Homo sapiens: one gene and its partner. The protein of the gene in region 2 purifies or fractionates together with the protein of the main gene of each other region. This does not show direct contact. Each region holds a gene or a part of one and is shown on either strand. Other genes may lie near its edges.

Region 1 (7,718 bases), on a different chromosome or scaffold from region 2:
AGGTGGACAGATGACTGAGAGTGCAAAAATTACACCACTAAAGAAACACGGAGGCTGGGCGTGGTGGCTCACGCCTGTAATCCCAGCACTTTGGGAGGCCAAGGCGGGTGGATCACCTGAGGTCAGGAGTTCAAGACCAGCCTGACCAACATGATGAAACCCGATCTCTACTAAAAATACAAAAATTGGATGGGTGTGGTGGCAGGCGCCTGTAATCCCAGCTACTTGGGAGGCTGAGGCAGGAGAACTGCTTGAATCTGGGAGGTGGAAGTTGCAGTGAGCCGAGATCACGCCACTGCACTCCAACCTGGTGACAGAGTGAGACTCCAGCTAAAAAAAAAAAAAAAAAAAAAAGAAAGAAATAAAGAAAAAGAAAGAAAGAAAGAAATGCTGAAAGAAATGGGATTCTTTGGCCCAAAAAAGGCAAAGGTAAGAAAAGAACTAATAGCAAGGGTGCCAAACACTGTATTTACTGATAGGTCAAAGTCTTACTGATGACAATAATGACAGTCTGAACTAATATTCCACAAAATATGTATCTAATGAGTTAAATGTGATTCGTGAGACTGCTATTCCTGTCTTAGGCCATAAACTAGACCCTTGAAAGAGAATCACTTGTCGAATATTGTACTATAAGTCTTCAACAGATGTATTTAGGTATGTTCCTTTTTCATTAGGTATGTTCTATTTACTGACATTAACATAAGTTACTAGGAAAGGTGTGCTACTAGTGTGCTGAGGTTCAGCAATATTCAAGTAACTAAAAGGTAATATAAGTTTCATAACCACACACCTTTGCACAGCACCAAATGGGGGGAAATGGGCTTAAATTACAGAATATATGTTACATTCAAGAATGTTCCAAATATGAGATTTTAATTACTCTAACAGAGCACTGGGGGTGAAGGAATTTTCTTCCCAGGACACTTCAATTAGAATGCTCGTCTGGAACTATCTGTATGCTTTCTTAGACCAAGGAGAATGGGTCTGAAACACTCTTCCATGGCTGTGATTCTCTAACTAACCCTCCCAGTTTTCAAGAGTAAGAGAGCTTGCAGCCATTGCTCACTTTTGTTTTGTCTTGAAGGTGGTCAATGTACACAGGACTACAGTTTAAGATAAACTTTAATATCCCAAATTGAAAACTGATTATAACTTTAATTACGAGTTCTTAAAATTACAGAGATAAGGATACATTTCGATTAAGCAGACGAAGTGGGGAAAAGAGGCATAGCTTCCTACTTCTGTGTCCCTTTCAATGAGGCTAGGTACCTCATTATTTCAAAATGCCCAACACTTGAACACTGTAAGTACTCAACAAATGCTTTGCGAAGAAAATATAGTATATTTCATATTAGTTTTGTAACTTTTAAAATACAGAATCGTTGAACACAGAATGTTGAGTCAATTTCAACGTCGCAATTAGTAATGCGAATTTTGAAACTTGTTCTAAATACAATTTTAATCAATCTGAGTTTTTCAGCCTTGAAATTCTAAGGTCCGTATTTCCCAAAGAATATCCTTCCCATAGTGCTAAGCACACACTAAACTGACTCACTAAACTTTCTCCACTCCTACATCACCTATACAGGATTTTAAAATCCGGAGTACACAAACTTTCAAGCCACTTCTACAATCTTGTATTAACCTTAGCAGGACAAACTTTTCGCCAAGACTCTTAACACTTTTTATCCAAAAACCTGTAGTAGTGAAACAAAGAAAACACAACCCCCTCCTCCTTTTCTAAACCATATGGCAATAAATTAAAGTTAACTTATTTCTTACCAGCTCAAAGCCTATACATCGACCCTAAACATTTGTCTCTTTGTGCCCTGGGACTGGGCTTAGAGCTGTCTGCTTATTTGCAACTGTACTCCAATCGTGTTTTAAAATGGCAAAACAAGGTCCAAAACGACCCCCGACCATGAACAGACCTCACCATCGTCATTTTCCAAAACCTGGTCTGGTAGGCAGCACATGCCGGCGAGGGCACCAGGGCCGCGGGGAGCGAGCCCTGCTCCGCCTGGGTGACTGAGCAGGGAGTTTGCTTGCTGCGGCGGGGTCGGATCCACCCCGGGAACTTGGTTACCCGAGCCCAGGGACGCGCCGAGGCCTAGCCGCGAGGCCGGGGCGGGCTCCAGGCGGCGAGGGCTTCCCGTCCCTTGGCCGCAGAGCCTTCCCGCCAGCCCCGCGGTCGCCCGCAGGCGGGGACACTCGCCGTCGTCTCCCGGCGACCGGACGCGCCTGCCGGGTCCCGGGCCGGCTCTTTTGCCTCCTGCTGCCGCCCGCGGCCCGGCTCTGCGACCACACCGGGCTCTTCCGGGGCGGCGGGAGCGCTAGGCCGCGCTGGGGCCCGCGGCTCCTGAACCGGCCGGGCGGGCCTTGGCGTCCGGTATCAGTCCCGAAGGCCGAGCTCCCGCCGGTAACGGGCCCCGCCGCCTCCCCTCCCCCTCCGCCCCATGACAGTGCAAACCCTCCGGCCGCCCGGGCCGCCCCGCCTCCAGCACCAGGCCCAGCTAAGGGCCGCGGCCGTGGCGGCAGCGGCGCCGCGGCTCTCCGCCCTCGCTCGCTCGCTCCCGGGTCCAGCGCCTCGGGCCCGGCTCGGGCTCGGCCAAAGTCTCCGCCGCTTCCCGGCCGCCCTCCGCCGCGCCCGGCCCGGGCGGGGTAGGCCGAGGCCCGGGAGGTGCGGGTGGGGGCGGGGGCTCCTCTCACCTTCATGTCGGGACATCCTAGTTCAGACGGTGGCGGCGCGGCCCCTCCCGGGCTCCGGCTGCAGTGTCCCCCGCGGGGTCCCGGCGCTGCCCGCGCCGGCCGGCCGACTCCCACTCGACTCCCGGGCTCGGCCGCGGGGGCGGGGTGGGCAGGGGAGCGCTCCCGCGGCGGCGGCGGCGGCGGCGGCGGGGAGGCGGCGCGGGGCGGGAATGGGGCCGGGCCTGGTCGGGGCTGAGCTCCTCCAGGAGGCGGGTCCGACGCCGCAGCTCCGCCGGCGCCCGCCGTGACTCCGGTCACTCTCGGGCCTGCCGGCTCCCGGCAGCGGCGCGGCGCTCCGCAAATCCCGCTCCTCCCCTCCCCCGGCCCACCCCCCGCCCCTCTCCCCCGGCTCCCGGCCGCCGCCTCCTCCTCCTCCTCTTCCTCCTCCTCCGCCTCCTTCCGCCGCCCGCACGCCAGCCCCGCCTCTCGCTGCCCTCGCCGGGCCCAGCCGCCCGGAGGCCCCGCGGCCGGCGGTCGCGACGGGGGCGACGCGGCGACGGCGGCTCGGGGCGCGGCGCTTGCCCGCGCTAGCCAGCAGGCCGCGATCGGGCGCCCGTGCCCAGCCTCGGCCTGGCCGCCGCCGCCGCCGCCGCGCCGCGCGTAGGGAGGAAGAGGAAATGCCCGGCGCCGGCTCCCGCTGCTCACCGGCGCGGCCCGAGGGGCGCCCGCCCGCCACGCCGCCCCTAGCCCCGCCTGGGGCGGGCCTAGGCCGGGCTATAGGGGCCAGGGCCTTGGGCTGCGCCGGCCGCGGGAGGTGGGTGCTTCTCGGCGGCGAGCTGCGACTCGGAGAGACTCCTGTCCGCAGGTGCATGGCTTCCGGGCGGGCCTCGGGCAGCGAGCTCCAGCCCCACTGAGAGGCCGCGGACCGCCTGGGGACTTGTGTTTGTGTGTATTTTAAGCCAACAGCCCAGAAAGGGAAGGCGACTGGCCCCCGGTCTTCGCCAGTGTTTCCCGGCCGGGTTACTGGTGGTCAGGAGGGAAGCCAGGAGGCTGCCGGGCTCCGAGGCCGATTCCTTGCGAACCATCTCCGTTAAAGACTCCGCGCCGGGCAGCCCGGGAGTCCGGCGGTACCCGCGCAAACTTTGTCCCAGCGCCTTGGCTCACCGTGAATGCCCTGCCTTGAAAATTTGGAGTTTTTTGTTTCCTGAAAGTGGTCTGCTTTTCCGATTTTATCTGTGTTTTCCATTTTTACCTTCTTATTGTCAATTTGTTTTCAGGCATTATTAATTCAACAAATCTTTGTACTGCCCCTTACCACGTGTCGATGGTTCCGTGGTTTGGTGGAAATAGATCGCGCTTTGAAGTCAAGACGGATCGGCCATGGAATTTTGGCTCTGAGATCCTCTGTGTAACCGTGGATGAGCTACAAGGCCTGCTGAGCCTCCATTTGTCTGGTTTTTGTGGTTGTTTTAATTTATCTTTTTCCATTTGAAGTTGTGGGTTTTGCATAAAATTGAACTGTTACCAGGCTAAGTCAACTGAAATTGGAATCTGGGGTACTGCTTGCTTTGAGGTTACTCTTATACTGTCCACCATTTGCTGGCTGTGTGATCTCTAAACCTCTCTGTGCCCTGACTTTTCTATCTTTAAAATGGACGTAACAACAGAGGTTTAATAATAAGAGGTTTGGAGGTTAAGTGCTAAAATGCATATAAAATACCTAGCACAGGACACAGTAAAAAGATTGTTACCGTATTTCATTGAATCTGGTTTTAAGACACTTCCTGATTTCAAAGAAACTAAAAGCTCATCTTGAAGTCCAGGAAGTAGGTTTTGGGTCACTCAGAACTCCCAAGGGACTGTATTTGGTAGTAACTAGTGATAAACAAACTGGAGTTTAAATGAGGACTTTGTCACCAGAGATATTTTTATTGCCTGTATGGAGCTCCTGCACAAATTTATTCCATTTCTCTTGTAGAAAGAGATCCAACCTGGCCGTAAATGGGGTGTGGTGGAGTAGAAAGAAGGGTATTAAGTAAAGCTCTGTGTCGATGCCTTTCTGAGCATTTTACGGTGTTGGCATATGTGATCCTGGGTATCAGGAGCCTCAATTTCTTGGGCTGTAAAAATGGGGAGAACAACGCTGATCCCATTGTCTCCTGATGGGTAAGTGATGTCTATAAATAAATTGTATAGAGATTAAGGCATTATCAGTGCTGTAGTCTGATAAAATGGTGGAGCAGATAGGAAAGCCTACAACAGTACTGAACTGCAGGAGGGACTAAGAGTAAATATAGAGATTTCATTTGCTTGGTTTTGCAGAGGGTTAGCTAACTAAACAGATAACTTTGTTTTCGACAGTTACTTCATTTTTTTCAGTCAGGCAAGAGTAAGGAGAGAGTAACTAAACCATTTTTTTTCCTCTTTAAATAAGAGTAAGCAGAAATATTATGGTTATTTGGGGTTTTCATGACCTTCATTCACTTAGCGGTCAGGCTGTTCAATTTAAAACAACCTTTTGCTTGCTGCCCTGCCATATGGGAAATTTCATTTCCAAAAAAAGGATTAATTTCCAGCCTGGGCGAAACCCTATCTCTACGGAAAATATAAAAATTAGCGGCCAGGAGCAGTGGCTCATACCTGTAATCCCAGCACTTTGGGAGGCCGAGGCAGGTGGATCACGAGGTCAGGAGTTCAAGATCAGCCTGGCCAAGATGGTGAAACCCCATCTCTACTAAAAATACAAAAATTAGCCTGATGTGGTGGCACGCGCCTGTAATCCCAGCTACTTGGGAGGCTGAGGCAGAGAACTGCTTGAACCTGGGAGCATTCCAGCCTGGATGACAGAGTGAGACTCCGTCTCAAAAAAAAAAAAAAAATTAGCTGGGCGTGGTGGCATCCGCCTTTGGTCCCAAATACTCAGGAGGCTGAGGTGGGAGGATTGCTTGAGCCCAGGAGGTCGAGTCTGCAGTGAGCCGTGATTGTACCACCACATCCTAGTCTGAGTGACAGTGTGACACTCTGTCTCAAAAAAGAAAAGAAGATCAAGAAGGATTAATTTAAATCCTTATACCAAATTGTCTACCAAATGATTTTTGTTCCACTCCAGAAATGTTTTCCTCCAGTCCCTTCCTCTCTCTGCACCCTCCTGAGTTCTCCTTTCTTCTGTGGACAACTGTAACTAATGCGTGTTTTTGCTAGGCTGACCCTTCTTTCATACTATGGCCCAATTATGTTTTTTCAAATAAGCTAATGGATGTAAGCACTGGTGAAATCTGAATAAGGTCTGTAGTCTACTTGATAGTATTGTACCAATGTCAGTTTCCTGGCTTTTGATATTTTTCCATAGCTTTGTAAGATGTTCCCATTTGAGAAAGTGTACCTGGGCCCTCTTTGCAACTACCTATGGGTAAATGATTATTTCAAAGTAAAAAATTAAAGTATAGGGACAGAAATTAGATCAATGGTTACTGGCAACTGGAGCTGGGGAAGGGTGGACTGATCACACTTTTTGAGATGATGAGAATATTCTCTAACTTGATTGTGGTATTTACATTACTGGATGACTCTGTGAATCTGTCAAAACTCATAGAACTATACACCTAAAAGGGTGGTTTTTTTTTTTTTTTTTTTTTTTAGATGAAGTCTCGCTCTTGTCCCCCAGGCTGGAGTGCAATGGTGTGATCTCGGCTCATTGCAACCTCCGCCTCCCGGATTCAAGCGATTCTCCTGCCTCAGCCTCCCAAGTAGCTGGGATTACAGGTGCATACCACCACGCCCGGCTAATTTTTTGTATTTTAAGTAGAGGCGGGGTTTCACCATGTTGGCCAGGCTGGTCTCGAACTCCTGACCTCAAGTGATCTACCCGCCTCGGCCACCCAAAGTGCTGGGATTACAGGCGTGAGCCTCCGCACCCAGCCAAAGGGTGGTTTTTACTTCTATATAAATTATACTTCAGTAAACCTGAATTAAGATAAGGAAAGCAAGCTCTTGGCCGGGTGCAGTGGCTCACGCCTGTAACCCCAGCACTTTGGGAGGCGGAGATGGGCGGATCACGAGGTCAAGAGATCGAGAGCATCCTGGCTAAATGGTGAAACCCTGTCTCTACTAAAAATACAAAAAAATTAGCCAGGCGTGGTGGTGGGCATCTGTAGTCCCAGCTACTTGGGAGGCTGAGGCAGGAGAATGGCGTGAACCCGGGAGGCGGAGCTTGCAGTGAGCCGAGATCGCGTCCAGACCTGGGTGACAGAGCGAGACTCCCTCTCAAAAAAAAAAGAAAAGCAAGCTCTCATCACCCCAGCCTCCTGGGGCTTGTAGGATGAAATGTAACTTTAAGGCCCAACGTGCTTTTCCAGCATACGGACTCTTCCTGCCAGCGCACCCTGGGCTTCCTTGTACTGTATTAATTCCTGCCCCTGTGCCTTTGTGCATACTCTTCCTTCTGCTTAGGTGGAGCATAGGAAAGTAAAGTCAAAATTCGGGTTCCCTGTACTCCTGTAAGCCTTCCCTGCCTCCCTTAGGCAAACCAGTAATTTCCTAACTTCCTCCTCTGCTCACTCATGTCGTGCTGTAATTTTTAATTCGTTTTCATCTTTTTTCTCAACTAGACTCCTCAAAGGCAGCGACCACATTGTTCTTTGTCTCTGGGATCCAGTAGTGTTGAATGAGTGAGTGAATGAACAAATTATTTATTTATTTATTTATTTATTTATTTTTTGAGACAGAGCCTCTCTCTGTCGCACAGGCAGGAGTGCAGTGGTGCGATCTCGGCTCACTGCAACCTCTGCCTCCCGGGTTCAAGTGATTCTCCTGCCTCAGCCTCCTGAGTAGCTGGGACTACAGGAGGGTGCCATGACGCCTGGCTAATTTTTGTATATTTAGTAGAGACGGGGTTTCACCATGTTGCCCAGGCTGGTCTCAAACTGCTGGCCTCAGGTGATCCACCCACCTCAGCCTCCCAAAGTCCTGGGATTACAGCCATGAGCCACCAGGCCCGGCTGTGAATGATGTAGAGCTGAAAGAAAAAC
Region 2 (6,831 bases):
GGCTCCCTCCCTCCTTAGCCAGGGTCACTTGTGCCATGCCTCCTCCTCCAGCCCGTGCCCCTCAGGGGAACCCCAGGCTGTCCTGGTGTGATCCCTGCATCCAAGAGCAGCAGGAGAATGTTTTGTCCCAGTGGAAGCAGTTCCCAGACTTAGGCAATTAGTTACCTATTTGTTAATCTTACAATAAGGGGGTTGACTAAGAATGGGAAGTTTTCCCAGAGCCAGGCTTTGCTTGGAGCTCGTCCCCTAGAGCAGGTGCTGCAGCTCAGCAGGGCCTAGGAGCGAGGGCAGTGGGGCTTCTTCTCAGCCTCCACCACTTTTGGGTCTAGGGCAGGGTAGGGAAACCCTGAGAAAAGTACCCACAGACATTGTCACCATTGTCTCCAGGCTCTTTCTCTAGAAGGCAGGGAAGAAGTGGGGAGGAAGACCAGAGAGAAGGTTCTGAAGGCCATGTGGCCCAGGTGCAGGCAGCTGCAATGGTGTCAGAGGGCAGAATCAGGAAACTCAGATTGGCCAGGGGCCTGAAAGTGAACCCCTGGGCTTAATGCCTCACTGGGCTTCCCACTAAGGCACAAGCAGGGCAGCCTGGTACAGCCTGCTGTGGGCTCACTTCCCTTTGTCCCTCGGAATGGCTTTGTCAGCTGCTCCTGTGCCCACACCACACCCCATGCAGCATCCACAGCTGTGGACCTGAGGAAAGCTGATGCCCTGTCTTACGTTGTTCAGCTCCAGGCTTTCTTGAAAAGGGCAGTTGTCAATGTCATCTTCAAATTTCCTACATACGGTTTGGCGCAGTTGCAGATTCATGGAGAACACCATCTTACCTCGCCACTGTTGGACAAAAGAAGATTAAAGTGGATGCACCGTCTTCCTGCCCCTAAGTAGCTACTAGTGAAGATGCCATTTGAGTAGGAGAGGCCCCAACACTTTACTGCATTTGAGAGCTTGCCCATGGGCCTGGCATCAGCTCACTGGAGGTGAAACCCAGGGGATCTTCTCTAGACTGAGGAGTTAAGAGCAAAAAGCAGGTGGGCATGGTGGGTCTGGGGAGGATGCAGGCTGAGTCAGACCCCACTAACACATTATCCACCTCCACCCACCCCCATTTCCCACGGTGAGACTCCAGCTTCACTCTCAGTAGGCATCTGATCTTGCAGCTGCATTCCCAGAGGACAGAGCCACATGTCCGGGAGGGTGTTGGATCTCCAAGAGTTTTCAGGGTAACTTCAGCCCTGGGACAGAGGGAGCCTCATCTACAGTGTGTTGTCAAACCTTCCAAGTGACCTCCAGCAAGAAGAATGACACACAGCGCTCCCACTACACACAGGCACACACCCTGGGAAAATGGGTTCAAGAAATACCATCTGCCCTATTGCAAAGTGCATGCTGAAGTTCTCCTTGCCCTCCTTCCCACTCCATTCTATTTAATTCCACTCCATAGCCTCCCTCTCACCCATCTATTCTTCCCAGCCCCCAAACTGATGCTGGGATTGCCATATCCAGGAAGCCATGTGGAAAGCTTTTAGGACTTACTGTCATTTAGGACTTATAGACCATAGTAAGGAGCTTAGATTTTATTCTAACGGTATTAAGAATGGAGGCTTACACTGAGGTCTTGGAGAATCAAGCAAAGCACTGGGAAAGCAGAAGCATGAGGCCTGGCCAATCTCAATCTCTGAGACTTCCAAGGTTCCAGCATGAATATTAGCAGCCACCATTACTGGACCAGATGCCCCTCTGAGGGTTGCATCAGGCTTTTAATTCTCCTGAGAGGAGGCAGCAAATGAGCAAGGAGGAAAATTCCTCTGTACCAGCATTGGAATCCTGAGGATGGCAGTGAGGAATCCACCCCAGGAGGCAGAGAACCAGCCAGAGCCTTGCACAGAGTCTTTCCAGAGCTTAAGCTCTGTGCGGTACTAGAGTCCCTCTGCCTTTCTTTCAGGCTCTTGGTGCTGAGAAAGGAAGAGCAATGCTCCTTCTCTCTCTAAACCAGAAGTTCTCCACTAGGAGGGCATTTTAATTGTTCATGCCTGAAGCCCAGATGAACTGTGCATTCCTGACCACATTTAATGATTTCATCAAAAAGGCAAGCATTTTAGGATAAAGGTCCATTGAGGAAGAGTGTAAATTGGCCTTCAGTTCATTAAGTGCAGACAGAGCAAGGAGCCCAGAGAAGGTGGAGATCAGAGAACTAACCTTTCACGGTGGCCTCTCAGGGCTGATGGTGTTCTTTATTGCCCTCGAATTCTCACTGTTCTCTCTCTGTCTGCCTGTCTCTCTCTCTCTCTGTCTCTCTCTCTCTGTCTGTCTGTCTCTCTCTGTCTCTCTCTCTCTCTCCCTCTGTGTGTCCTTGCTTTTCCATTTTCATTTTATGACCTGGAAATGTTTATCAGTCTCTTTGGTTATTTTCTCTTCTTGTCAGCTTCATCTCCTTAGAAGTCCTTATTTTGAAGTCACTCTTCAGTTATACAATGTCTTAAAAATCATGAAGATTGAAAAATATATTTTGCATGTGAATAGACATTTACCTAATTTAAAAAAAATTTTAAGTTCAATGTTTTCCAAAACTAAAACTACCGTAATTGGTTGTGGACTACCTGACTATGGACTGCTGATGGTGAACCAAGTCTCCTAGACTAGACATCTTGGTCCCTCACTTAGGGGCAGATGGAGAAGGACAGGCCAGAAGAGGATGTGGTCACCAACCTTTCTGTCCATGCTATCCTCCCTCCATGAACTCAGGACGCGCAACAGCCTGTAGGCATGCTCCTCCTTGCTCTGCACGTTGAAAGTGTTCAAGGCAAACTCCACTGTGGCGAGGAACATAGGATCCTGGACTATTTTATTATTACCACCCATTTCCTCTTCAGAACACCAGGCATAAGTCACCAGGAGCTGGAAGCCCATGAGAAGCAGTGACAGTGCCCAGGGCATAGCCTTCCTCCTCTGCGGACTCGACATGATGCAGGCTCCAGCAGCCCTTGCCTTTGCCCTTCAGATCCCTGGCGTCCACTGGAGCCTTCCAGGGCTCAGGTCTGGCCTTTAAATTCACCTGCTGGGGCAGAAACTCCTCCCTCCAGGCCTCACCTCTGCAGTTACACCCTGTCTCTCCCACACATGGCCTCCCTTCTTCCAAAGGCGTTTAAATCATCTCCTGTTTAGGGGAGAGGAACAGCACCCAGGCAGGTGGGTTGGAAAAGACTAGCAATGGGAGAGATAGTGCCCTGAACATGAGGCCCAGCCCCAGCTGCCCCAGCACCTCCGCAGGCTAAAGGAGACCTCTACTGGGCGCCCCAGAGTCAGAGCCCGGCACAGGAACACAAGTGTGAGAGGTATGAGTGGAAGGTGAGCCCTGGACTCAGCAGTGGGGGTGGGCTGGGAGGGGGAGGTTAGGTGGAAAGGCAGAGACAAAAGGATGGAAAGGGATGACAGTGGATGCTAGTATCATGGGTGAGCAGGTACAGCGCCCCGAGAAAGCACTGGGCCTCTTGAGAGAGAGGCGGGGAGCCCGGGAGGATTGGCGGGATGTCCTGCAGGTGTCTGCTCCCCCGAGGGTCTCGGGAGGGGGGCACCAGCCTGGGGGTCGTGGGCAGAGGTTGAGGAAATCAAGAGCAGGAGCCCCCAACCCTGTTCTCTGCACCTCCCTAAATGCAGCTTCCCAGCCCAGGGACGCGCTGCCAAGTGCTGGTACTAGGGGCCTGGCTAGTTATGGCTGCCCCTATTCCTCAAAGGTGTTTCCAGGACGGGTGGCCGCTTGCAATTGGAGCAGTGGAGAACCAGAAAGACGAAGATGCCCTCAGGGATGGCTGAAGTGCACCCATTAGGTTGTCACGGGTTCCCTCCTGTGGCCACAGCCGGCACAGCACTCTGCGGCACAGTTTGTGGGTGGAGATTCTGAGTTCTCGACCAAGACCCACATAGCCTCCAACTCCAACCGCAAATGGGGCTCTCAAAAGACTGAATAATGCACTCTTCACAGACCAGACTTAAGCTTTGTCCCTGTGAAATATGCCTTTGATGTTTATCCGTAGCTCCTTGTAAACTTCAGAAGCAACCAGCATCCCCTGATGTCACGTTAAAAAGCAAGTTCCTAGTTTCCCCACCCAAAGATTCTGACCCAGTAGCTGTGAGCAGGGCCAGGGAAACTACATTTCTCACCAGCTTCCAGAGGATGGTTGTGTTCCCGGTCTCAGAACCATACTTTGAGTGGTGCAGGTTCAGAATACTTCCTGGGAAGTGCATACAGACCAAACCACATATGAGAAGTAACTCAGCTTGAGGGGCATGGAGGTCAGGGGATGAGAATGGCTTTTGTGGGGCACACAGGATGGGGGACAGGCTTAGACAGCATGCCTGGTGATAAAGAATAAGAGTTTGTTTCTAGACCCTGTTTGCAAAGAAAAAGCAACTCAATGTGACAATTCCAGGAAAGCAGCCAGATGTGCCAAAAACATCACCCAAGGAGTCTGTATCCTTTCTCTGATGGCGTTGAGTTCACTGGAACTGCAGCTGAAGCGTAACTAATGTGGTTTCTTAGCTGGAGAGTGATGGTGCACGTAGGGGTAGGAAGGGGGTGTCAGTGAGGGCGGAAATGCCTTTGTGGGTTTTGGGATGAGCAGGCCATAAGGTGCTGTGAGAACTAGAATCCTGATGCCTGGAATAGGTTGCGAGTGTCCTGAGAGAGGCCTGCAATGCCCATGGAGGTCACTCTCACCTTGTAAGTTCAGCGGCTGACAAACTTGGGGCATCCTGCCAATTGCCAGTGGCTCCCCCACCATTCTGAGGGCCGATACCCACATGTGCTCCAAGGGAGTGCCCACACTCACTCTTACATGAGCAGTGGTTTAGGGTCCTGGGCACCAGCTCTGTCCTCACTGTGCAGCCAAGGAGGGGACAGGGATCCCCACACCCAGATGTGAGACCACGGGTGTACAGACACCATGGACCCTTACAAGTGTGTCTATTTTCTTGTTGAATCCCCAGTGGCCTGGGATGGCCTCACTTCCCAGGTGGAGAGAGACGGGAATATCAAGACATAGCCAGGTAAAGAGAAATACATGTGGGCTCCAGGCTGAGGAGCCCCGAAGACGTGGGTCAACATGTTGCCGAGGCCAGAGTGAAACCGGACGGCCCGGAGGGGCTGGCTGGCCAGCCCACAGGCACAGCTCACAGCTCTCTGCAGGGCTATCCCCAGGTCTCAGGTCTGGGAGGCTTTCTCTCCTGAGTCCCCTTGCAAGAGTTCTGTCTCACTCAGCTTCTTCCTGGGCACTCGTTGGCCTGTCTGTCTCTGGGGCCACCGGGACTTGTCTGGTGCTCTCTTTGTGTTGCTGGCACTGGCACCGAACACCCATGTGGTCTCATAGGAAGGTCCCAGTAACTCCTCACTGAAATGGACCTGCTTTTCCAGAAACGAGGCCCTGTATTTCTGAACGCATTCCTTTGAATGATTAGAGAATGCTGGCAACGACCAGGACCAAGCCACTGGCCCTTTTCTGTGAAGCTGAACATGAGGCGGTGGACGAGGGGAAGCCCAGTGACTCTTCGGGACACAGGACGCTCTCCCCAGCTCCCGCAGACCCTCCAGCTGAGTGCTCTCCCCGGGGTCGGACTCATGTCCCTCACTGCCCGGCCTACTCAGCCACATGCTCTAAAGGTCCCGTGCGACCTTGCTCACTGCCTGTTTCAAGCTGGGCCAGGCTCAGCGGGGCCTGCCAGTTTCAGGATCGCCTGCTGGGCTTTGGGATCACTTCCTCGGGACCCTCCCCATTCCCCCTGCTTGGCATTTCCCTAGGAGACTCCCCAGACAAGCCAGCATTCCCAGGGGTTTCCGTGTGCTGGAAAACAAGGTGGTGTCCAGGAGATCAAAGGAAGACAGCAGGGGCAGGGAGAAGCCCGGACTCAGAGCAGAGTGAGTGATCCAGTGATTGCTGTCATAGCAATCATCAAAGGGGCAGCTCGGGGCAGGGGGGTGAGCGGGGCTGGGTGGGGGTGCTGCCAGGGAATTCCAGAGCCCCCTCCACTCCTCCCTCCCCTCCTCCAGGTTTTCCACCTGGGGGGTTCTTCTTAGCTCAGTCTTCAGCTGACTTTGAGTTTTTATAATTTAAGGAATTAATCTCATATAGACTTATGGCAAATTTAAACTGAGAAAGAGGAATAATGATTGAATTAAAAAATGACAAAAGGAGAAATAAAAATACAAACATTACCGGTAAATATAGAGGCCTAAATCAGGGGTCATTCGTACCACATGCAAATCGGAAGGCCCATGGGCTGTTTCTTCTCCTTCCTGTGGGTCCAGCAGGTCCCTCACCCTGGCTAAGTCGGGGGTGCTGCCCTGGGCCCAGGAGCTTTGCTCTGAAGAGGAAGTGCTGCCCCAGTCACCCTCAGCAGCCCTCCTGTTTGCTGGCCTTTGCCGAACACACCTGCCTTCGCTCCTCAGTGGGCGTTTCCTCAGCTTCTGCTGTGCTCCCGACGGAAGCCTCTCCCATCCAACGCAGCCCATTGTTTTCTTTCATAAGTACTTTAGTTTTTAAAAAACTGTAAGTTAATTTAAATTTAAAACAGTACAAAAATGTCATAATACCACTTCTTTTTTATTTTTAAAATTTTCTGTAGAGATGGAGTCTCACTATGTTGCCCAAGATGTTCTCGAACTCCTGGCCTCAAGTGATCCTCATGCCTCAGCCTACAATTCCACTTTTACTAAGTGAAATGTAGGTTTCAACATAATAGAAACTCCAAATACCAGTGGCTTAAACAAGCTGGTGTTGCTTTCTCTCTCAGGATGCTGACAATGCTAGAATTCTTTCATAAGCCTCACTCCTGCTGGGC

What was found.
Region 1: the proteins of CST9 (region 2) and KCMF1 purify together in Homo sapiens (affinity purification with mass spectrometry; 3 studies listed by BioGRID and IntAct, with this or other methods). This does not show direct contact.

Annotation. Positions count from the first base shown.
Region 1 is NC_000002.12:84,966,462-84,974,179, reverse strand, and holds the start of KCMF1 (E3 ubiquitin-protein ligase KCMF1), read right to left. Parts: upstream 3,020-7,718; 5' UTR 2,729-3,019; coding exon 2,713-2,728; intron 2,330-2,712; exon of another isoform or gene 1,980-2,329; coding exon of another isoform or gene 1,940-1,979; intron 1-1,939. UniProt on the Homo sapiens protein: E3 ubiquitin-protein ligase which accepts ubiquitin from an E2 ubiquitin-conjugating enzyme and then transfers it to targeted substrates, promoting their degradation by the proteasome.
Region 2 is NC_000020.11:23,602,904-23,609,734, forward strand, and holds the start of CST9 (cystatin-9 precursor), read right to left. Parts: upstream 3,015-6,831; 5' UTR 2,962-3,014; coding exon 2,707-2,961; intron 832-2,706; coding exon 607-831; 3' UTR 1-606. UniProt on the Homo sapiens protein: May be involved in testis development. May play a role in hematopoietic differentiation or inflammation. Has immunomodulatory and antimicrobial functions against Francisella tularensis, a Gram-negative bacteria.